Linked DNA regions of Homo sapiens: regions 2 and 3 are each linked to region 1. A link means that fine-mapping ties the variant in region 1 to the plasma level of a protein whose gene starts in the linked region. Region 1 holds a variant in brackets. A gene starts in each other region. All regions are shown on their forward strands.

Region 1 (8,289 bases):
TGGCGAGGAGGGAGAGCACTGAGCTGATGAGGAAGCCCCGCCCTCCCTGCACCTGCTCCAGACCCGGCCTCTTGCTCTGTGGGCCCCGCGCGCCCCCTGCTGGCTCTGAGCAGCACCTGCGCCGGTCCCCTCCGCCTCCCTGCAGGGAGGTTTGTGTCTGGGCTCACACTCACCTCCCCTCACTGTGTCTCTCGCACAGTAATACACGGCCGTGTCCGCGGCGGTCACAGAGCTCAGCTTCAGGGAGAACTGGTTCTTGGACTTGTCTACTGATATGGTGACTCGACTCTTGAGGGACGGGTTGTAGTTGGTGCTCCCACTATGATAGATTTCCCCAATCCACTCCAGCCCCTTCCCTGGGGGCTGGCGGACCCAACTCCACCAGTTACTACTGCTGATGGAGCCACCAGAGACAGCGCAGGTGAGGGACAGGGTCCCCGAAGGCTTCACCAGTCCTGGGCCCGACTCCTGCAGCTGCACCTGAGACAGGACCCCTGTGAACAGAGAGACCCACAGTGAGCCCTGGGATCAGAGGCACCTCCCATACCCCCATGTCTGCAGCCTTGAGACACTCACATCTGGGAGCTGCCACCAGGAGGAGGAAGAACCACAGGTGTTTCATGTTCTTGTGCAGGAGGTCCATGACTCTCAGAAAGTATTTCCCATGTGAGCTGGACCCTGAATTTAAGGAAATGTGTGGTGGTTTCCTGTGGGTGCCTAAGTGAGGATTTGCATGTAGGTGGTGCCTTTGTATAAAGAGGTGAAAAGGGATGAGGGAGGCCCCAGTCTTTTAGGCTCGCCCTGGGATGAGGATGCTTGCTTTGCCCTTTGAGAACTCAGTTCTCTTCCTGGGGCCTCAACTAGCCATGCCCTGGCTCCTCTTTTCCCAGGTGAGGAAGTAGATTGGAACAGCAGCTTAACGTAATAATCATGTGAGTTCAGACACACCAGGATTCACTTAATGTATAGTTCGGGACCTCCATCATGTTTAGAGGGAATCTCTCTGTTCTAGGGAGTGGGCCATTTTTTTAAAATTTTTAAATTAAAATAAATTTTTTAGATGAACTTTTGCTCCTTTGCCCAGGCTAGAGTGCAGTGTCCCGATCTCGGCTCACCGCAACCTCCGCCTCCTGGGTTCAAGTGATTCTCCTGCCTCAGCCTCCCGAGTAGCTGGGAGTACAGGCACGCACAACCACCCCCGTCTAATTTTTATATTTTTAGTAGAGATAAGGTTTCACCATGTTGGCCAAGCTAGTCTCAATGTCCCGACCTCAGGTGATCCACTTGCCTTAGCCTCCCAAAATGCTGGGATTACAGGCCTGAGCCACCATTTTAACTAAGGCACTGGGAGCTGCCCTCTGAGACCTTTTGAGTCCTGGAATTCTTTCTGAGACCTTAGGAAAAACTCGTGGGACATATCTTCATCATTCTCAATGTGTGACCCTGAGGATGTGTCCTGACCTCTGTACACTTCTGTGTGAAAGAGTAGATTGTGAATTGCAGTGAAAATTTCATATGTAAACTCTATAATAGGTCAGCACTGGAGGATATTCTCATTACCAAGATTACTGCAGTTACCTTTCCTGGAAACCAGAGAGGAATTCTGTGAGCCCTCACCTCTGAGTGCACAAGGAACCCTGGTCCTGTCTGACAGGTCTCACATGTGACATGGGGGAAAACAGATACATTCAAGTCCAGTGTTTTCACCCATATATTGACCAATCTAGCCTGATCTATCTGTCTCTGAAAAGCCTTTTCCTTCATTGAATGCATGAACATACCCTTGGGTATGGGGTATTGCAATGTGGGTATTTGGTATTTGTTTAGTGAATTATGTAATTAATAGGCTACCTCCATGAATGTGTGTAACAGTAGAGTTATCAGAAGTTGGATGAGTCATATTATCAGGACAAACCTGGACTCTCTTCTTGGGACCTGGACAAGTGGCCAATCTTCTGTGGTAAAGCAAAGGGGAAGAGACAGATCCAACATCCAGAAGCAGGGTAGCTCCTCACTTACCAGCTGGTGTCTGAGACTTTTGTTAGAATAGATGAAAAACGACCTACCTTCACCTTCAGGGAAATGATGAACTTCGTATGAAATTGAGGTTAATTTTCACTTACAGAGAAGAAAATGTCATAGCCATGTATATATCTATGTGGGTGTGTACGGGTTTCCAGGATGTGTTCATACACAGAAAGGAAGCAGCTATATTTGCTGGGAAGAGAACCGAAGAGCTTCTGAATTTGTAGGTGTTGTTAACCACAAATGTGTCATGTTACTACATCGTGTCATAGTGCTGGTGGTAAAACCTCCCAAAATTGTCATGGAGACAAATGCAAAGAAATAAAGATTCAAATCAGATGCCTTTGGTCTGTAATGAACAGACCAAGAAATCAACCATTATGGAAAGAGTGATAGTTAAATGTAGTAGTAAATTCCACGCTGAGGTGAGAGGGAAGTTCCATCTGACAGCTCACTTTCACCTCTGGGAAGACTTCAGAGCACAGACTAAGAGCAGAGAGTGAACTTAGGGCAAGTGCGGTCAGATGTTTGAGGAGGATGGAGAGAGAGCTGGAATCCTTGTGAGCCATTCGGAGAAGCAGCAGTGTGCCAGGGTGTATTGAGTCCTCCTGAGTTAACAGGTGCTGAACAGATACCAGTTTCACTGCCCTCATTTTGATTTATCCTCAAGAGTCTATTGGATTTCTAGATTTGAACACTGGAAAAGTTGATGAAACTCAACATGACTAGGAATATTTCCGGGAAGATTTATGTAATGATGTGAGCGTATTTAAAATTAGGTTATGAAAATTTCATTATCTAAAATGTTGGTATCAGTATCTATTGATTTGTTCTATTTTTCTTAGAGACAGGGTCTTGCTCTGTCTCTCAGGCTGGAATGCAGTGTCATCTATGAATTTTATAGTATTAAAAATGATCGGCCGGGCGCGGTGGCTCACGCCTGTAATCCCAGCACTTTGGGAGGCCGAGGCGGGCGGATCACGAGGTCAGGAGATCGAGACCATCCCGGCTAAAACGGCGAAACCCCGTCTCTACTAAAAATACAAAAAATTAGCCGGGCGTAGTGGCGGGAGCCTGTAGTCCCAGCTACTTGGGAGGCTGAGGCAGGAGAATGGCGTGAACCCGGGAGGCGGAGCTTGCAGTGAGCCGAGATCCCGCCACTGCACTCCAGCCTGGACGACAGAGCGAGACTCCGTCTCAAAAAAAAAAAAAAAAAAAAAAAAATGATCACCCTGATTAATGTTACCGTATTATCCCCTTGAGGGATTTTGCTCCATGTGTGCCTGTGACATAGTTCTAGTCACAGATGCAGGAGAAGTGGTCTGTTGAGGCAATTCTTCCTCCTCAGAGGAGAATATAAACTATCATCTCCTCACCTTGCTTATTCCATTTTCAGAATTGCACACGACCTTTGGGAATGCTGTCGCCATGTCTTACACGGTGGGAGTCGACTGTGGCATGAAGCTGGACTGGAGATGTGCAATTTTAGGAAAATACAGAACCTGGGCACACAAAGTTTTGAACTAATTGGGCCTGGAGCCACTCACATCCTGGCATCTTGTTGAATTGTTTGTCATTTTAAATTCTGGTTATTTAGTTCAAGTTTCCTTGATTCTCTTTCTGCTAAAATAGTCATTCATAATCATCTAAATAAATTAAATTGGAAAAAAATTACTAATTTGAAAATTAACCTCGTTTCTGCTGAGGTCAAAATTAGTTTGAGGTGCACAGAGTGATGGGCATGGACATAGCAGATTACCAAGATTTCACTCACAGCCTAGGTAATCACTACATTTTATCTAAATTAGGAAACACTTCTGTACATTCCTTATATTTATTAAACTCCTGTTGAGAAACTTCAACTGTTATATGTTGATGGATCCTGCCCAATAATAAAACTAAATGTTTTTAAACACGAATTCCTATTACAATGTTAGCTTTACTTTAGGACACATTTCTTCACCTCATTTCAAATTGGCCCAGATGCACTGATTAGAGCGTGTCAGTTAAGAAACGACCAGGAAATGAGATCACGTTTCTGGAGCAGGACATGGCTTTGGGATGCTTTGCAAACGAAGTGGTTTCTCATGTCTTCTTGAAAATCCATTGAAATGGGCAAGTTAAGGACCTCTTAGAAGCACTCTTCCATCCCATATACTTGACTAATAAAAAGGTGGAAGTCAGTGCGGAAAAATAGATAACATGAAAGCTAAAGTAAGATTTGTACCAGTTCATTGCGCCAAACATGTAATCTTAACCTAGAGTAGGATCTTATCTGAACCCTCAGGAGGTAAATTTCCTGAGAGATTCAAAGATGTCTTTATAAAATAACAACACTTAGCCCCCGATTTTATGTTAAAATAATGGAAAACTCCTGGTAATCTACTTCACTCAGTGTAAATCAGTTAAAAACAAAATTCTGGAAAACCTGTGAAGGTGGGACTTGCCGAGGAACTGAGCCTTGGGGGCCTTTGGACACTTTTAGTTGGATTTTCTTCAGCTTTGACTCTCCATGGAATTTGAACAAGTTTCGTTTACTGTCTGCTGTTTTTCTGAATGACTTGAAGTAATTACTTGACAAAAGCCTACAACCTTCTCAGTTGATAGACATATTTTATGTTTTCGACCTGTGACATGCCGATGTTTTCATCAGGTAACTGAAGC[AC/A]ACCCACTACAGGAAGCAACTGTTATAAAGTGATTCTGTAAGGTGTTTCCATTACTCAAATGCTAAACTGCTATTACCAGCAACAATATTCTGTAAATGTTGAAAAAAATGGCATTGCTACGTAGAATTAATCACAAATTTTAAAACTTTTTCATATATTATTTATTGTTTAAATTCATAAGCATGGAATGTTTATTTTTCCATTTATTTGTTTTATCTCTGATTTTTTTCACATGTGTTTTGCTGTTTTTCTAGTAGAGATATTTCATCTCATTGGCTTAACTCTATTCCTAGGTATTCCACTGTCTTGATGGCTATTGGGAGAGCATGTTCTTGATTCCACTCTCAGCCAGAACGTTGTTGGTGACTAGAAAGGTTACTGTGATTTTCGTACATTGATTTTATATCCTGAAACATTCCTAAACGAATGTATCAATACTAGGAGACTTTTGGCAGAGCCTTCAATATTTTCTACATATAGAATCATATTATCAGTGAAAACAGAGGGTTTGCATTCTTCTTTTTCTTTTATTTGGATGCCTTTTATTTCTTTCTCTTGCCTGATCTGGTGAATACTTCCAGTACTAGGCTGAATAGAAGTGGTGAGAGCGGGCATCCTTGTCTTGTTTCTGTTCTTAAGGAAAATGCTTCCAGTGTTTGCCCATTCAGTATGATGTTGGCCATGGGTTTGTCATAGACGGCTCATCAGATTGAGGTGTGCTCCTTCAATGTCTATAATTTTGAGGATTTTTATCATGAAGCGTTGTTAGATTCTATTGAAAGCTTTTTTCCTGCATCTGCTGGAATACTCACATGGTTTTTGCTTTTGATTCTGTTTAGTAGAGCATCACATTTATTGCTTTGCACAGGTTAAAGCACTTGTACAGTGCTGGATGGAATGTGAATTAGTCCAAGCACTGTGGAAAGCAGTTAAAGCAGCCTTGCATTTGCAGAATGAAGCCTACTTGATTGCAGTGTGTTAACTTTTTGATAAACTACTGGATTTGATTTCCTACGTTGAGAATTTTTAAGCCTATGATCATGAGAAGTATTTGTCTTGAATTTTCATCTCTTCTCAGGAGCAGACACAGGCACTGATCAGGAACTGGGGACCTGTGAAGGTGAGTAGCTGGTCAGGGTTTCTGAGGATGAGCGTCTGTGATGGGACCTGCCTGTCCCTTCTCTTATGGGATGTCTCTCCTGAGGATCCTGTACTGTCTTATTTGTGCAGGTCCACTCTGTGGGACTTGTCTTTATAAATCTCAAATCTCAGGAACAGGAGAGCTGTGCTCCAAAAGCCCCCATAGAGAAGACACATTCCCATCCTGCTGTGATTGAAACAGCTCCATCCTGGGCATGGGGAGGGCTCATGTGTCCCCCACACTGGGATGAACAGCAGCAGCCGCATGTGAGCTGAGGAGGACTCAAGGATGTTTCCCAGCACTTCCCCCAAGAAGGAAATTTGTGTGATTACCCCATATCCCGGCTGGCCCTGTGACTTGCTTCTTTCAAACTTCTTGGCCTGGAAAGTGCAGGCACCAGCTGTTACTGTCACTCCTGTTGTGACACTGTACACAGCACCAGGGCAGGAGCCTGGGGATGGGGCTGAGGAGAGACACTAGCTAGGTGAATCCATTGAAAACTTGGGGACCTGCTGGGGTTCCTACTCTGAGAAGCACAGATCCTAGAGGGTTTGGAGGAGGAGGAAGTCACCATCAGTGACTCAGGAGCTGCTGCTCTGCAGGTCACCTGATTGGCAGGTAGCAGTGGGCAGGTGAGTGTGCTTCATCCCTACAGGGACACGAGGCTTCGACCTGCCCCTCCTCACCAGGAAGGAAACTGGCTTTGTTCATCCCGGTTTCCCCAGCTGTCTGGTCATCCTCTCTTCCTGACCTCCTGCCCAGGGCCCTCAGGCCTGTGATGCATGGACAAAGTACCTGGAGGTACCAAAGGACCTGGAGGTTCCAGGAGGAAATAAAAACGAGTTTGGGGTCTATGAGCTCTCTCACCCTCACACTAGTTCAGACATGCCCTTTCTGTTTATTTAGTTCAGATTTACATATAACAAACCACACAGCCAGGCTCGTCTAAATTGCCACATGCTTGTTTAAACACATTGGAGCAGCATTAATCCTCACATTGATCTCAGAGAATCTTGGTTCCAGTTCACTGTTTACATTAGCTGAGAGCAGCATCAGGGACACACTGGAGTGGACATTTCTTCCCTAAAAAAGCCTCACTCCCAAATATACTAAAGAGCTGCCATGGAGCCATTGTGTGGTTGGATTTCTTCTTATCAGCCTGTCATGGAGGATATTTTGAATGATGTAGACTTTACACTTAGATGGTAATGACTCCCATTGTTGTTGAAATGGCTGGCAGCCCACAATCCTGTTTCTCCTCTCAACTCACCTGAATGTCTCCAAGAACCCCAGGAACCTCAGGACTCCCTTCATGGATGACTCTGAGGATTGTTAGTCTGCTCAGTGCTACACACAGAAGTAGCTAACAGAGGATTCTCAGTCCGCTGACATGTTGGGCTCATAACATAGGACACACATCCAAGAGTGGCCAATTCATGTCAATGCCAATGGAAATTTAATTGAAGAGGCATTATTTTTAGTGCATTGGAGTGTAAAATCTTCATGATTCATGGCAATAGAGCCACAGACTGAATGCTTTGCAGAAGAAGTGAGCTCATTGTTAGAAGAAAGAGGCCTGCCCCCAAGAAGTCAGTCTCTTTAACTAAAGCACCTGAAATATGGTGTCCTGAGACCTTGTGAAAATTCATTTCCTGGAGTAAAGAAAGGGGAAAGCTATTCTTAAATCATTGGAAGAAACCATATCAGAAATTTTATCAACACAGCAGTCAAATTCCAGTAAGTCAATGCTTGGGTTTATGTTTCACAACTCAGGAAGCAATAAAGAAATCTACATAATCGGAAGGCTACTCCAACAGAGGGAATTTTGACCTATTTAATTAATAGGCCAGTATTCACTCAAAGACACACTCCTGTGAGATCTCCAACTTAAACAGATCTCTGTAACCTGAAGAAGTTTTCTCAACAGATTCTTTTTTCTCTAGACACTCGCAAATGCAAAAATACATTTTGTATATTTGTGTATGAGTGATCTAGAGAAGTCCTTGCCTTGTTAATGAAAGTTCATGGAAATATGATAACTGCATCACTTACTGTGAACTCACACTTCACTTGTCTCAAAAATTTCTCACCCATGTGATGGAGCAATGGGTGCCTGTAAGAATATGCTGATTTTTGGACTCAATGTGTTCTCTTTGCTTGACTTATAGACGCATGTCTGACATCTGAGACACACCCTGGGGAGCTGTCTCCAGACACAATAATGTAATCTTCTTCATGAACACAACTCTGCATTCTCCACATACCTCAGCCACACCTGAGGGGAGAGCTGTTAGCTTCACCGTCCAAAAGCGCTTTATACCCTGGAGTCTGAAAAATAATTTGGATGTGATACCACCTTGTACTTGTAATATAGAGGGCAGAGGTCAGCCTCCCCCTGGACTTGAATGTGTTTTATTGTTGTATGTATTTTCTTGCAGACATGAATTACTTGCTTGA
Region 2 (8,289 bases), not on the chromosome of region 1:
AATAAATAAATAAATAAATAAATAAATAAATAAATGCAAGCAAACATACTAGCCCGAACAGTAAAATTAGAAAAACCAAAGCTATAACATTGGAGCAAAGCTAAAAAAATTAGAATGACAAAGGTTTCGGTTCTGCTAGCAAACTAAAGAATATTTAGGGAATATATTTATAAACTTATGGTCAATATTATAGATAAAAATACTATATATTACAAAAATAACCAAAGTCCATATGGTATTTTGCCAATTACAATTATTTCTCCCTGTCTTTCCCTACCAGTCTTGTTGAGAATCTCTGTGGTAATAAGCCACTACTACTGTTGGAAGTATTTTGTATTCCTTGGGTAGAAAGGCAAAAAAGTGGCTGAGAACCACTATCTTTGTTAAGATACAGAATGCAAATATGGGTGAATAGGCAAAGCCCCCAAAACATTGTTTACATCTCTTCTTTACTGTCAATGTCAAAATGCCAAGGAAAAAAAATCAATAAACATACTTAAAAAATGAAAAATGATGCTGGGTGGTGGCTCATGCCTGTAATTCCAACACTTTGGGAGGCCGAGGCAGGTTCGAGACCAGCCTGGCCAACATGGTGAAACCCCGTTTCTATTAAAAATACAAAAATTAGCCAGGTGTGGTGGCGGGCACCTGTAATCCCAGCTACTCAGGAGGCTGAGGCAGGAGAATCACTTGAACCTGGGAGGCAGAGGTTACAATGAGCTGAGAGCGGCACTGCACTCCAGCCTGGGTGACATAGCAACTCCGTCTCAAAAAAAAAAAAAAGAAAAGTGAAAATGAATACACTAGTTTCAAGGTTGCCAACAAGAATAAATTGAAAAGATATATATAATGAATACATATTTATTTATAATTATATAATATGTAACATTAAATACACCTGTAACACAATGTGTAAAAATAGGCCCGGGTGCAGTGGCTCATGCCTGTAATGCCTTAAAAGTGAAAATGAATACACCAGTTTCAAGGTTGTCAAAAAGTCTCAACAAATTGAAAAGACACATATAATGAATACATATTTATTTATATTTATATAATATGTAACATTAAATATATTTATATTATAAAATAATGTGTAAAAATAGGCCTAGTGTAGTGGCTCACGCCTGTAATCCCAACACTTTGAGAGGCCAAGGCGAGTGGATCACTCGAGGCCAGGAAGTCGAGATCAGCCTGGCCAACATGGTGAAACCCCATCTCTACTAAAAATACAAAAATCAGCAGGGAATGGTGGTGCACCCCTGTAATCCTAGTTATTCGGGAGGCTCAGACAGGAGAACCGCTTGAATCCGGGAGGTGGAGATTGCAGTGAGCCAAGACTGCACCACTGCACTCCAGCGTGGAAGCCAGAGGGAGACTCTGTCTCAAAAATAAAATAAGATAAAATACAATTACTGATGGCCTTAAAGATCCACAAATTTCCTTGATTTTCTATGAAACTATCTTATACCTTACTATATAACCTTTTAACCTTGAGAAACATAACAAAGGAAATAAAATGTTCTCTGGGGTTTTCCTTCAAATAGAAATAGGTGAATACTATCCTACTACTTCAACATTAAAACTTACATAAAGAGAACATGCAGCATTTTAGACAAGTTCTTAGCCTTGAGGAACAGGTGTGAGTATGAGATAAACACAGAAATACTAAATTAAACTCCAGATTATAACAATACTAAGTGAATTTTTTGGTTTTTGTTTTGTTTTGAGATGCAGTCTCATTCTGTTGCCCAGGCTAGAGTGCAGTGGCACGATCGGCTCTCACTGCAGCCTCCTGCTCCTAGGTGCTAGCGATTCTCCTGCCTCAGCCTCCCCAGTAGCTGGGATTGCAGGCGCCTACCAACGTGGTTTCACCATGTTGGCCAGGCTGGTCTTGAACTCCTGACCTCAGCTGATCCGCCTGCCTCAGCCTCCCAAAGTGCTGGGATTACAGGCGTGAGCTACCACACCTGGCTAAGGTGGGATTTTTTTTAGGGTACATTTTAATTATACAAAATAACCCAACAGGTGCTATATGCATTGACTTTTATAAAAATCAGTTGAATATTAATTATTGCTATTCACTGAATTTTTAACGAGAGGTTCTGATGAAAATCTGGTTTTCATAAGGGAGACTTCAACTACTTTATATTCTCCAATGACATTTTAGTAAGAATAAAAAAGAGAAAGAAATGCCTACTTATAGGTATATTTCATATTGGAAGGAAGAGCCTTTAGACAAAATTAGTAGAAAAAGCACACATTGGTGAGATTGTTTACCTGATCTAACACGATCTAACAATTTACCAGACAAGAACGTATGTATCATTAAAACCGAAGTTTTCCAAAATACAAAAATTTGGGTAGAAAAAATGTACATTATTTTTTGAAGAGTTAATGCTACTTACAGATAGATGTTTGATGTATGGCATATTTTTCTACCATAGTCATAGAGCTTTCAGATCCTGAATACCAATAAAGACCACCCCAACCCCACTATTTGTTAAAATGCTGACAACCATTTCTACTATTTATTTATTTGAGACGGAGTCTCGCTGTGTCGCCCAGGTTGGAGTGCAGTGGCGCCATCTCGGCTCACTGCAACCTCCGCCTCCCAGGTTCAACAGATTCTCCGCCTCAGCCTCTCGAGTAGGTGGGACTACAGGAGCCAACACACCCAGCTAATTTTTGGTATTTTTAGTAGAGACGGGGTTTCACCGTGTTAGCTAGGATGGTCTCGATCTCCTCACCTCATGATCCGCCCCACTCGGCCTCACGAAGTGCTGGCATTACAGGCATGAGCCACCGCGCACGCCCAGCCTCTACTATTATCTTAGCTTAAAAACAAAAAACGCCAAAGAAAAAAGTGCAGGAATTCCTGGGTTACATATTTAACTAATAAAAATACAGTGCCCCAAATACGAAATAAACATTCGGATAAGATATTTTAAAAAGGATTTTCAGGAAATGCACCCGGAGCTATAGAAGGTATTATGTACACTACACATACAAAAAAAAGTCCCTGAAAGCTCCTTCCTGACAATTAAAATACATAACAACTAAGTTCTAAATTTCCACGATATTACATTTTAAATCAGTTCTTAAAACTTAATGGCAGTAGCATTCTCTCAAAGCAAGATTAAACGTCTTAGGAAGGCAACATACACATCATGGTAAATTTGGAAGATTCTCAGAAACTCTTTTACACATCACGGTAAATTTGGAAGATTCCTAGAAATTATTTTACAAAGACGAGGATTCTTAACTATTACGCAACTACTGATGGCCTTAAAGATCCATGAACTTTCTTAATCTGCAGAGGGGAATCTGTATATTTAAAACGTATTTTACAAGGATGTTCCTAACATTTTTGAAACAAAGTTTTTACGGTGGATTCCTCAAGTAAGGAAAAAAAAATTAATACATGATAAAACTGCTTCTGTGTTTGTACTTTAAGACACTTAAACCTGTAGGTTTGACTTTTTAACAAGCTTTTATAAATAAAGCTTTACCTTCATAATTTTGATTCAAGAGACCAAAGCTATATGGCTATTTAAAGATCAGAACGGCTGTTACTCACAATGATAACGCCAGTGGTCATGTTTCTTCAAATAGGACAAAAAGTGTGCTCAAAGAAAGTCAGTTTTTGTTCTGATTTTAAATGTATATCTTAAATGCATGCATTGTGACCGTCTCCATAATTTAAAACCTCTAAGAAATTTAAACTTTCACATTATAATTTAGGGATTAGTCAATCCCTTAGTACCAGTTAAATAATAGCCAGGAAAGCATTAGAAAACCTGAAGGTACATGTAAAGAAATGCTTTACATCACTATTTAAAATAGGTGTTGAATTTTAAGAGAAACATTTCTTTCACTAAAATTTCTGATGCCTAAGGTCCATCAGGAGTAATCTCTTTTACTCCATGATATTCACAGTAGTTTTGCTCTTGGCCTCACCAGTTTTAAGACTCTCCATTAAAGAAAGCCAATTTTATACTACCTAGGGGCACAAAAATAGTTCCCAGCTCCTCCTCTCTTTTTCCTCCTAGGTTCGGTTAAACGAGCGAACATAGAAAACACGTACACACACTCCCTTTCGGCCCTGGTCCCTAGGGCATTGATGAAAAGCAAATTATTTCTTTACATACGCTCTGCTGTCCACCCAGAGATTTAAAAAAAAAAAAATAAGGGAAAATACCAGAATCAGTCTGCACCCACACCTAAGCCCCGCCCCACCGGGAAAAAGCTGGGGGTAGCGGGATTGTGAGGGTGGCGGAAAGGACGGAAAAGGCCGAGACTTCCAGCTCCTAGGTTCTCCACACCATTCTTTCCTTCAAGCTGCACCGCAGCCAGGGACCCTGATTCTATTTTCAGCCGCGCCTCCCGATCCTCCTCCCCGCCACCATCACCAATACACGGTCCTCAATCGCTTGAATACTGGGTGGGGAGACCAGAGTGGGCCCTCTCCCCGCCCAACCCAAGGACTGTGGGTGGGAGAGGTCTCCCTGCGCACACGGCTGACTCGACGCGCGCCCCGAGGACCTCTGAACTGACCCAAGTAGGGTGAAGATAATTCGGAGGGAGGGGTCTAAGAGGGAGCCGTTATTCCTTTTTCCTCTGCCTTAGGAAAGCGCGCGAGAGGGAGGGGCCGGAACAACGAACGCTGGTTACCTAACGGTCCGGCCCAGCCAGTCAGGTTCCCAAAGCCCACACCGCGCGGGCCGCCGAGGTGGCAGCACAGCCACAATCGCCCCAAGGGCTAAGGAGCACGTCAGGAGCACCCGAGGTGATGGGAAACGGGGGGTGGGGACTGTGCTGAGCGACGTCGCCATGTTAGCGCCTTCTTTCTCCGTATCCCTACAGTCTCCAGCCCTGCTGACCTCTGCCCATCGTTACTCACCTTTCCAGGTCACTAGTTCATGATCCTTTCGGTCACCCGCGAGCCCTGAGCACAGCCGTGTTTACAAAGCACCCCTGGAGGAAAAGGCTGAACGGCACTTTAAAGGCCACGGGCTCCCACAGGCTTCCGTCCTCTCTCGCGAGATCGGACTGACAACCCCCGCCCGCTCGCCCCGCTCCCGGCATCCCCACCTTCCTTCTGGCGCCCCTCCCCTTCACCCACACGCCCCTTCTTGCCTTCCTTCTGAGGGAGCGCCTCCGAGTCAGGTGATTCCGTCAGGCTTAAGGAGAAGAAGGCGGGTCTTCGGCAGGGCGGGTAGAGGGGACGGGCATCAAAGAGCACTCGGGCGCTCATGATTGGACAAGGAGCCCGAAGGGCGGGAAGCAGTTCTGGAGGGGGCGGGACCAGAGGGCCCAAGGAGCGTTACTTCTGTAAACCCGGAGCTGTGGAAGACTGTGATTGGCTGTCGGCTGGAGGAGGGCGCGGGTGCAGGCGGCGGTGAAGGGCTAGGCAGGGCTTTGGCGGTGTGAGGGGAGGAAAGGTGGTGAGCTCCGGAAAGGCTGCTAGAGGGAAAGCAGGATGGGTCCTCCGAGCCCAGCCCCAGGAGCCGGGTGTCTCCGTTTCCGTCACTTCCCAGCACTAGGTAGGGAGGTGGGTAAAAGTAGGCTGCGTTCCTCAGCCCACCCCTTGGCTCCCCGGGAGCCTGAGGCGGGGAGCTTCGGGTTAGGTGAGGTTTGGGGGAGGCGGAGTTTGCTGGTAATTGCCCATCCCTCCCCTCCAAAAAACCCCACACAACTTAAAGATTTTAATATTAACTGTAAGGATGTTGGTTATTCAATAAATAGGCACAAGTTGAAAAGTATGATCAGAGGCCTCTGTGAGAATTTACATTATTCAATAAAAGATTTTCAGTGTCTTATTTTTTCCATTTATTAAATACTGATTTCTAGTCTGGAACAAAATTATGAACTAGTTTATATATTAACATAAAATACACTCTCAAAATTGTTGAAAGGTTTTGGGGGATAGTATGAGAGTTAATGAGCCTGAAGTTCAAGAATGATATCTGGCATAAAAGTGAAATTGTAATGGCATTGACATTTTAACAGGTAGGTCTCTGGACCGCATACATGTGTATAAGCCAACTCAGTCCTCTTTTAAAACTAATTTTAGTTAAGAAACATTAAGCCAAATTATTAACACTTTCCTACTTAAAATGAAAGTACCGTCCCCATATAGTAACAGTAATGTAGTAGTGCCATTGTAGTGTAACACTAATTATGTCAGCAAAACCTCACAGTTCAGATTACTCATGATGGAAATGGTGGACAAAATGTTTGATTGACATCACAATTGTTAGGTCTAGAACGCATTGATTAAATAGATGCTTCTCTCTCCATCTCCCAAAACAACTAATGTGAGAAAAAGAACTGCAAATGTTACGACATTTCAAAAGAAGTTTGGGTCAATTAGAATAGATTTTTTTAAAAAAATTGTTTTTCCATTTGAAATTTTTTCCAGTGTTGATTCAATTGGGCAGTAGCTTTGGTTTTAAATTTCTCATTGCTACTTCTCCAGTCTGTTGTCAAGCAGTTAGTTATCTACATGATGCATTCGAGAAACACATTATTTTAAAGAAAGTCTTTCAGTTCTTTTTAGACAAGAGAAGAACTGTTTAGTGATATGAACAGTACTCTGATCTGTTTTGATAATTCAGTTTTAGCTAATTTTCTAAAGAGAGGGTATACCTAAAGTGAGAAAAAAAAATAAGATAGGCGCAGGAAACAGGTGGAAACTATGCCGATCTGTTATATATGCATTTTGGCAGCCCGGCATTTAACAAAGGGTCTCACTTTATCCACATATTTCTAGTTCCACAGCAGTTTGTTTACTATAGTTTTTCTACAAGTGGGGAAAACATTCAGCATTGTCAAAATGAATGTAGTTACCATATTCAGGTCTGATTCCATGAACTTGTCTCACTACTTATTCATATCCTCATAAAATGCCACCCTTTTCCATCTTTGTTCTCACTTTTGCATTCCTCAATATCCCCAAGAGTCCTAAAATTCTTTACAGTCTTCTCTTTACAAACGCAGGAAACTTCTTGTAGACCTCTTCTTTGCCTGTCTTGTTCCATGATGCATCTACCCAACTTAGTTCTAAGAGAATTAGTGAGGGTCTAGTGAATCTCCTTTAAGAACCCAGCATAACTGCTAAATAAAACTAATATTCCTTAGATACAAAATGAGGCTATTTGAAGAAAATGCATTTCTGTCATGAAAATGTTAATAAATATCACAAGAAACAATGATGGTCTCTAAGTGCCCTCAAAATCTTACAAATGCCACACAATGTGGTATTTCCACCTTAGTATGATAGGGCTGCTAATCCATAATCTGTTAAAACTGCTCACAAAAATTCTAAAACGTGTGTGTGTGTGTGTGTGTATGTATGTATGTATATATATGTGTATATATGTGTGTGTGTGTGTGTGTGTGTGTATATATATATCTGTTCTCACGCTGCTAATAAAGATATACCCGAGACTGGGTAATTTATAAAGGAAAGAGGTTTAATTGATTCACAGTTCAGCATGGCTGGGGAGGCTTCAGGAAACTCACAATCATGGCGGAAGGGGAAGCAAACATGTCCTTCTTCACATGAATGAGTGCCCAGCAAAAGGAGAAGCCCATTATAAAACCATCAGATCTCTGAGAACTAACTCACTATCATGAGAACAGGATGGGGAAACCACCCCAATGATTCAATTATCTCCACCTGGTCCCTCCCATGACATGTGGGGATTATGGGAACTACACTTCAAGATGAGATTTGGGGTGGGGACACAGCCAAACCATATCTCTCTCCATCTTCCCTTTCAACTTCCTCTCCTTCTCTCTCTCACTAATAATTGATTTTCAGAACATAGTTTCTGTTTGTCTGCAGCTAACCAAAACATAGAAGACTACAGGGCACCCCTTATGTCTACTTGGTACAACTAATCCTAGGCTTAGGGAAAGAGCCTCTACATTTTCATGATATTCTCAGGATGCAGCCCAGTACAGTGGATTAGCTGGGATTTTATCAGTGGGATCAAGGTAGGGGTGTGTGTGGTGTGTGTGTGTGTGTGTGAGATGTGAAAGGGGTGGGAGACGCAGGACATGATTACCCCACTGATATCTGAGAAATGAAATAGGATAATGTGGCCCTAGACGTTGTACAGACATTTTGGTAGCTTCTATCTCATGGCAGATCTTTTCCTCTCTCTGCCAGCTCAGGGTCTTCCTGCACATTGCTGAAATGGCCTATGTTAAAGTTACCTCTCAGCACTTGTCCTCATCATGGACATTTTAAGTGCAGGGATGTCTACCCTCCAACCCAAATCT
Region 3 (6,998 bases), not on the chromosome of region 1:
TAAAATACTGCCAATCTTTAGAAAGTATTTTCATTAACTTCCTAAACTTCATGTTTTTTATGTGAAATATCTATGAGGAAAAGAGGAAAAAGAACAAACCACTAAATGCAGCATAAATTGAGCCATAATGCTGTGAGATTTTACACCTGTGCACTTTAATGGAAACATCATATAATACTTTGTAGGGTTTAAAGAAGAATGAAAATGAACCACTATGGAAGTTACCAGAACCAATTTTCCTCCATTGGGTGGGAAATTTCTTATGGAATGTGTTCTGTAATAGTTGCTGCTCCATTAATCCTTTCATTTTATAGGTCTAGTTCCTTGTTTTGGTGTTCAACTAGTCTACAATGTCAAAGATGTGTATCAAAATGTATATATAACTGATCTATATTACAGTTTATATATATAGTTCTATGTAACTGACTCTATTTAAAAGAATTAATGTAGATAGGCCTTCTGATGTCAATGCTTTTATTGAATGTCATAATGATCAAATTTTTGGCATTACCTTTGTTCAAAATTTTGAGCCAATCTGGAACTTTATTACTTCTATATTTCTTATTTATAACAACAAGCTATATCTAGGAACAAAAGTCGTTTATTTTTTAAGGCAAGAAAAATATAAATAGAAAATTATTCGGCACTGTGTAATGTTAAAATTTACAAATATATGTTATTTCTCCATTGTCACAAGAATTCTAGTGGGTAGACAACTTAGATAATGCTCCTATATACAAAAGTAAAAACAGCTAGGCATGGTGGCTCACGCCTGTGATTCCAACTCTTAGGGAGACAGAGGCAGGAGGATAGCCTGAGCCCAGGAGTTTGAGACCTGCCTGGGCAATATAACGAGACCCCATTCTCCACAAAAAGCGGGGGAAAAAGACAACAAAACAAAAGTAAAAACAGGTTCAGAAAAATTAAGTATGTCCCTAAAGTCACAGAATAATAAGTGATGGAGGTGGAATTCAAATGTAATATTTTGTTTGTTGGTTTGTTTAGTTTTGAAGGTAACATACTTTTTAGTCTACAACCTATTTAACTACAAAAGTGTGCCAATCACTGGTATTAGGATTGGGGCAGATGTATACTCTGAAAATAAAAGTGCAAAATAAATATCCCATCTGGAAATAAAAGTGCAAAATAAAGAGGGAGGAAAAATCAGCCCTTCCATTTCTTTTCCTTTGTAATGCCAGTTGAATTGGTTTAGTGAGTAGTTTTGCAAGACTTGTTTCACTTTGTTTTTGGACATAGCTGAGCCATGTACTTCAAACAGAAGGCAGCCAATTACTAACTTCTGGTTGCTAGGTGTGGCTTCCTTTAAAATCCTATAAAATCAGAAGCCCAAGTCTCCACTGCCAGTGTGAAATCTTCAGAGAAGAATTTCTCTTTAGTTCTTTGCAAGAAGGTAGAGATAAAGGTAAGTCTTGGTTTTCCTTTTAGTTAGTTTTGGTTGTTTTGAAAACTTTTCTCATCACTATGTTAAATGTTACTGCTTCTACAGGATTTATGGTTAGTTGCATTTAACATGATAAGTCATTCATAAATCTTTCTGTAGAATTACATTGGATATTTATATTTTAGGAATCACAAATTACAATATTTTTGTTCTACTTAGTTAACAAATACAAGTAAAAATAAGATAAGTTTGCTTAATACTGGCTCATTGTACTCTTGGTAAGTTACCATGAGAAAGAAGGGAAGAATGTGCTTTCCCTCTGGTAGCCTTAAAAGAATGTGTTTTTCCTTTCCTTCCCCTTGAAATATTTCTTCCCAAGAGCTGTGTGTTTTACAGAGAAATCGTGATGGGGGCTGCTTTTTGGGGGCAAGAACAAAAGTGATAGGAGTGGGCTGCAGGGAACTGTTTCAAAATAGTAGGACTTTCATAATTTATTTTCTTCTTTTGTAAGGAAAACAAGATAGATTCAGACCTCAAAGTGCTAATCATGCTCTTTGTAATAAACATTTAAAAATATATGTTATATTTGCTTATGCTATTTAAAATAAGAAGGTCCGCTTATTACTTTTTTCATTTAAAGAGGGTGTGGCCACATTCCTTTTCTTGTAGGCTCTGTGTCATATACAGTCTTTTCAAGTGCTGGCTGGAAAACCTAAAAAGAAGGGAAATACTTTCTGGGTAGTGTCAGATACATTATCCTAGGGGAATGTCAGTGAGGCCCTCCAACAGCTATTCCACTTGATTGTTGCATGAGCTAATGGCCATAAAACTCCTTAGAAAAGCACAAAGCAAAACTAAAGAAGAGTATTTACTAGTGTTGGATATATTTGTAAAAGTGAGATTACAAATCATGTATCTGGCTATTTTTTTCTTAAACATGTTCCTTCAAGAATTTTTCTGTTCGTTCATTTTAAATATTTATTAAATGTTCTGATTTCTTATGTTCACTGCTAGCTAATTAACAAGGATGGAATTTTTCTTGCCTTGGTTATATCTAAAAGATTGTAAAAACTTTGAGAAAGCAATGTTGCCCTCTTTCCACAGGAGTATTTTGGTAGCTGTAAGAGAATGCACATTGCAAATGACTCAAATGTGGTAAAATGTTGGTTTCATAATTCTGAAATGGCCTCTTCCCCAAAAGTGACAGTAACACCCTAGCTCCAGGCTCAACCACATCCAGCACATAGCCAACATTTAACAGATGTTGACAAAATAGTTAATAATAATATTATTAAGGAACCAGCCAGAGTTTCATGCTTATTAAATACTTTTTCAACCAGAAGGTCTGCAAAGGTTGATTTCTGAATATGACGTTAGCTCTCTCTAGACCTATTAATTTACGACATTTCAAATCAGAGGTAAACCAGCAGACCTATTATTTTTCAATGATAAACTATAAACAGTTTTTTGAAGTCAACTATTTCCTTTTCCTTTAAAATTGGACAGAATTTCATCAGGAAGCTCAGAACAATCCAATTTATATAATGCCTTCCTTCATTATGCTAATTTTCTTCATCTTCATCTACTTGAAGTAATATTTAAGATTGGCACTTCAGAGCTGTAAATGGATCTTAGATGATAATTACTTCAACATTCTTATTTTATAAACGAAGACCCTCTGGAGAAGCTAAATGTTTTTCTTGAGGTCAGATCGCCAGATAATCAAGAACCAGTATACTTCAATTTGTATTTTATATCCTATAGTTGTGGGTAGAAAATGTTCATTAAATTAGTGTAGATATGTTTTTTAAAATATTAGCAATGATACATGATATTCATTCAATAATACTTATTAACATCCTAAATTCCAGGCATTTTGCTAGGGATTGGAAGTACATACATAATGAATATTATTATTTGTATGTTAGCACGGGCCTCATGGCCTGCTCCTGGGGAATATAAACAAGCCAATGGAAAGTGATAATACAGAAAGGTGGGGCTGGTGTAGGGGTGAAGTCAGGATGCTTTGGGAGAGCATGGAAGGTCACCGAATCCAGTGCTGAGGAACTAATGAAGGGTTTCTGAAGAACGTGATGAGATCAATGCTGATGAGTCACTTAGAAGTAGCAATTAGTTAGGCAAAGGGAAGTGAATGTGGAGGAGGAACAAGCATTCCAGGCAAGAAGAACACCCTATCGAAAAGCCTGGAAGCAAAACATTAGTGAGGCTACCTTTCATAAATTGCTTTCTGTAAGTCATGCCATTGTGTAGTCTTAATTGCTTTCTCTCACCAGGGAAGGTGTGGGAAGGACTTGTGAAATACATATTCGAGGAAAAACTATGCACAAGGCCGTGCATTTAAAAATAAACTCCCTAAGGCTGGGGTGAAACCTGCTACGGTCTGCGCAAGTTGACTGTTAATGAATTTGATTCTCAGGTGTGAGTGATTAAAAGAACACTGATCATGTCATTTTCTTTTTGGTCACTAATTCCCTCCCTCCCTTCTCTTTCTTTTCTTTTTTCTTTTCTTTTCTTTTTCTTTCTTTCTTCCCGACAGAGTCTTGTTATGTCGCCCAGGATGGAGTGTAGTGGTACAATCTCGGCTCACTGCAGCCTCCGCCTCTTCCTGGGTTCAAGTGATTCTCCTGCCTCAGCCTTCTGAGTAGATGGGACTACAGGTGCACACCACCATGCCTGGCTGATTTTTGTACTTTTGGTAGAGACGGGGTTTCGCCATGCTGGCCAGGCTGGTCTTGAACTCCTGGCCTCAAGTAATCTGCCCACCTTGGCCTCCTAAATTGCTGGGATTGCAGGTGTGAGCCACCATGCACAGCCAAAATATATAACACTTTGGAATCAAAAGGGATGGATTTATGTCTCCATTCTTGCCACTACTAGCAGGAAGACTGCTTGAAAATAGCACTCAGTTTTCCCAGATAGAAACTGAGGATAATGATTAAAGGCTATTATTCCAAGCAAGGGTTAGTCATTGCTGTTACTATCATTGCAAAACTCTGATAGTTCTAGATTGTAACCAGGAAGATACAATCAACCACAAAACTCAGCTTCCTCTGTCACAAATTCTAGATAGAGGTAGCCTTTCATGAGGCTGAGAGATGGAAAAATGAAGCGGGGGGACTCTCTTAGGACACATAAATATGCAAAAAAATTGCTACGCTTTAGAAAGCTATACATTCAAATCATAGATAAGCTGACATTAGTAGGCAGTGCATGTTCACAAAAAGACCATTAATTAGAAGAAATGTGAAATATTGTTAATTTCCTTATAGATTTGCCTATGTATAAATGGCCAATTTCACCGTCAATGAGCTCATGCTAAGTACTGAAATAAACTTAGTTTTAGAGCTTATCTTTGGTTAGTTGAAATCTGTATTGAGTTAGTTGAAATCTATAAGTTGATAGAACAGGCTCTTTAAAATCTATTGCAAGCTTTATACACTACAAACAAAAAGATAGAAAAAAGAAAACCTTTCATGAACTCATTGGCTTAGGCAGGTTTTCATGCAGAGTGTAGGTATTGAAGAGTCAGAACGGCTTAAGGATAGAATTTGGCCAATATATAAAAAAATATATATTTGGTATTTGTTAGTTGTATTATAATTATTCAGAAGTTCAGTTAATACGTGCAGTTGGCTTTGAGCCCTTAACCAGCTGTATGTGATAAAATCTGTTTCCTTTAGAGCAATTTCTTATATCCTGCCTTGATGCTCCTGTCTTTAATCTTTGCTAAGAGCTGGTGGTGAATTTGGCTGAATTCAGATTCCGTTTTTCTCTAATTGATTTCTTGAAGAAAATTCTCTATTGGTTGCTTTTCTTTCCTAGATTATGCTTTTAGTCTATCCAAATACTTCAGGCTAGAATGTAGGAACTTAGAAGATACAAATCACAAAGCTGTCTCCTCTAGGGATGCTCTCTCTTTCAAATAAGTGACTTAAACAACTTATTTTTGTTATCTTGTGTTATGTAATTAATATACCTTTTCCTGGGCTTTCTCTGGCTTTTTTTTTAAATGGACATTATTCAAGTATTTTTTAGAAGTAAAAAAAAAACAGTACAGTAAAGTTTTTATAACGTTTATTTTGAAGTTGTCAGAGACACCTTTAATATTAGACTGGACAATATCTTTAGTCTTTCTTTTGCTTTCTTTTGAAGTTTTTATTTGCTAATTGAAAAGAATGGAATAATAATAATAATAATAATAAATAAATAATAATAATAAATAATATAAATAAATAAATAAATAAATAAAATAAATAAATAATAAAAACATGTTTTTATAAGTGATGGAGTAGTACTTTGCCAAGTGATGAATTTTAACACTCATTTTGATGATTCTTCCTTATCAAAGCCTTGGATGAAATGATGAAAATGGAAATTTTGAGTGCCTGAAGCTGCTAGAATTGCTTTTAAAGTATTGGGTGTGCCAATTAAGAAGGTGGAATATGAAACTCCATGTGGCAACCGCAATTGCATGAAACTAGACTGTAATGGGAACTAAAACCTTGTGCAAAATTGCGGGTTGTTACTTTATCAGGAAGCAATTTTAAGTCTATCAATTATATTTAGGAAACAGGCTGCTTTAAATGAATGGAAAAAGTATTGGTTCTTCTCACAGATGACAGAATAGTAATAAGAGCAATCCCATGCGAATTAAGTGGGGATGATTTCTGCTTTGGATATTATTTTCTTCATGCATTCAGTGTTATTACTTGCAACTCCAGTTACTTTTTAGCAGGTGAAAATGGAAAGAGTTTGTCTGAACATGCTGTTGAGGAATCAGTTTATGGAATCAGTTTATGCCTCATGAGTCATTTATCTTCATATCAAGAATTTAAAACTGCCAAGATTGTCCTCCCAACCTCTCTCACAAACATTCATGAGAGTAGTCTCTAGAGGGGTGAAACAGAATGGTGTAGATAGACAGATCAGTGTAGACCTTGAGCAAGGCCTCTGAAAAACATCCCCAGACTAAAAGGATCTGTGATGGCATTTTGTGTGTGTGTGGCCAAAACAGAGAACACATTAATTTTCAATATACTTAAGATCTTAAAAATATATGTCTCATTAAATAAAAATATTGCCAAGTCATGATAGCAATTCAAGAAATTTCCTTTAAGATAGAGTTTGCCAAAAGAACATGCATGTTACAATTGCACCTCTAGGCTTCCTGCTACAACAAAAAAATCCAGTATAAAATAATTCTTTTCTGGGTTTTTTGTGTTGGGTGGGAAAATATGTAGGACTACTATTTAGACAGCTCAAATAGGAAGAAATGTGAAGATAGCAATTACTTCAATGCTGAGTACTTTTATATCAAGAAATAGAAAAGGAAACTAAATTATTCAGGGAGAAATATCACCTGGATATCTTTTTACAATTAAAATTTTAAATCTGAATTCACTTGTACAGATTGGCACAAGTTATTTTACCTTATAAATGTAATCATTGGCTGGGAGTGGTAGCTCACACCTGTAATTCCAGCACTTTGGGAGGCCGAGGCGGGCAGATCACTTGGGGTCATGAGTTCAAAATCAGCCTAGCCAACATGGTGAAAACCTGTCTCTACTAAAAATAC

Which allele goes with the higher level. Positions count from the first base shown, and alleles are read on the strand shown. Strength reflects both the effect of a copy and how common the allele is.
As copies of A replace AC in region 1, the plasma level of the protein whose gene starts at base 5,054 in region 2 goes up (strong association).
In carriers of allele AC in region 1, the plasma level of the protein whose gene starts at base 1,364 in region 3 tends to be higher than with A alone (strong association).

What was found. PIP is the chance, under the fine-mapping model, that this variant and not a neighbour inherited with it causes the effect. The UK Biobank Pharma Proteomics Project read protein levels with antibody pairs (Olink). The fine-mapping took linkage between variants from a reference panel, not from the people measured, so its PIPs are less certain.
Region 2: ATF2 starts here. The variant in region 1 is fine-mapped to the plasma level of the ATF2 protein (UK Biobank, PIP above 0.99).
Region 3: it holds the start of ANXA1, and the variant in region 1 is fine-mapped to the plasma level of the ANXA1 protein (UK Biobank, PIP above 0.99).

What each region holds. Positions count from the first base shown.
Region 1 is chr14:106,011,735-106,020,023 of GRCh38, forward strand. It overlaps IGH and IGHV4-4. Among named protein-coding and RNA genes, the nearest start is that of FAM30A, 98 kb to the left of the region's middle. The variant AC/A (reference allele first, on the strand shown) is at 4,690.
Region 2 is chr2:175,163,150-175,171,438 of GRCh38, forward strand. ATF2 (activating transcription factor 2) reads right to left here and starts at 5,054. Exons shown (of 14, transcript NM_001880.4): 1 at 4,901-5,054. It overlaps MIR933 (microRNA 933), which reads right to left and starts at 4,560; the gene lies at 4,484-4,560. RefSeq lists a silencer at 5,003-5,072.
Region 3 is chr9:73,150,502-73,157,499 of GRCh38, forward strand. ANXA1 (annexin A1) reads left to right here and starts at 1,364. Exons shown (of 13, transcript NM_000700.3): 1 at 1,364-1,423. RefSeq lists a silencer at 3,352-3,646.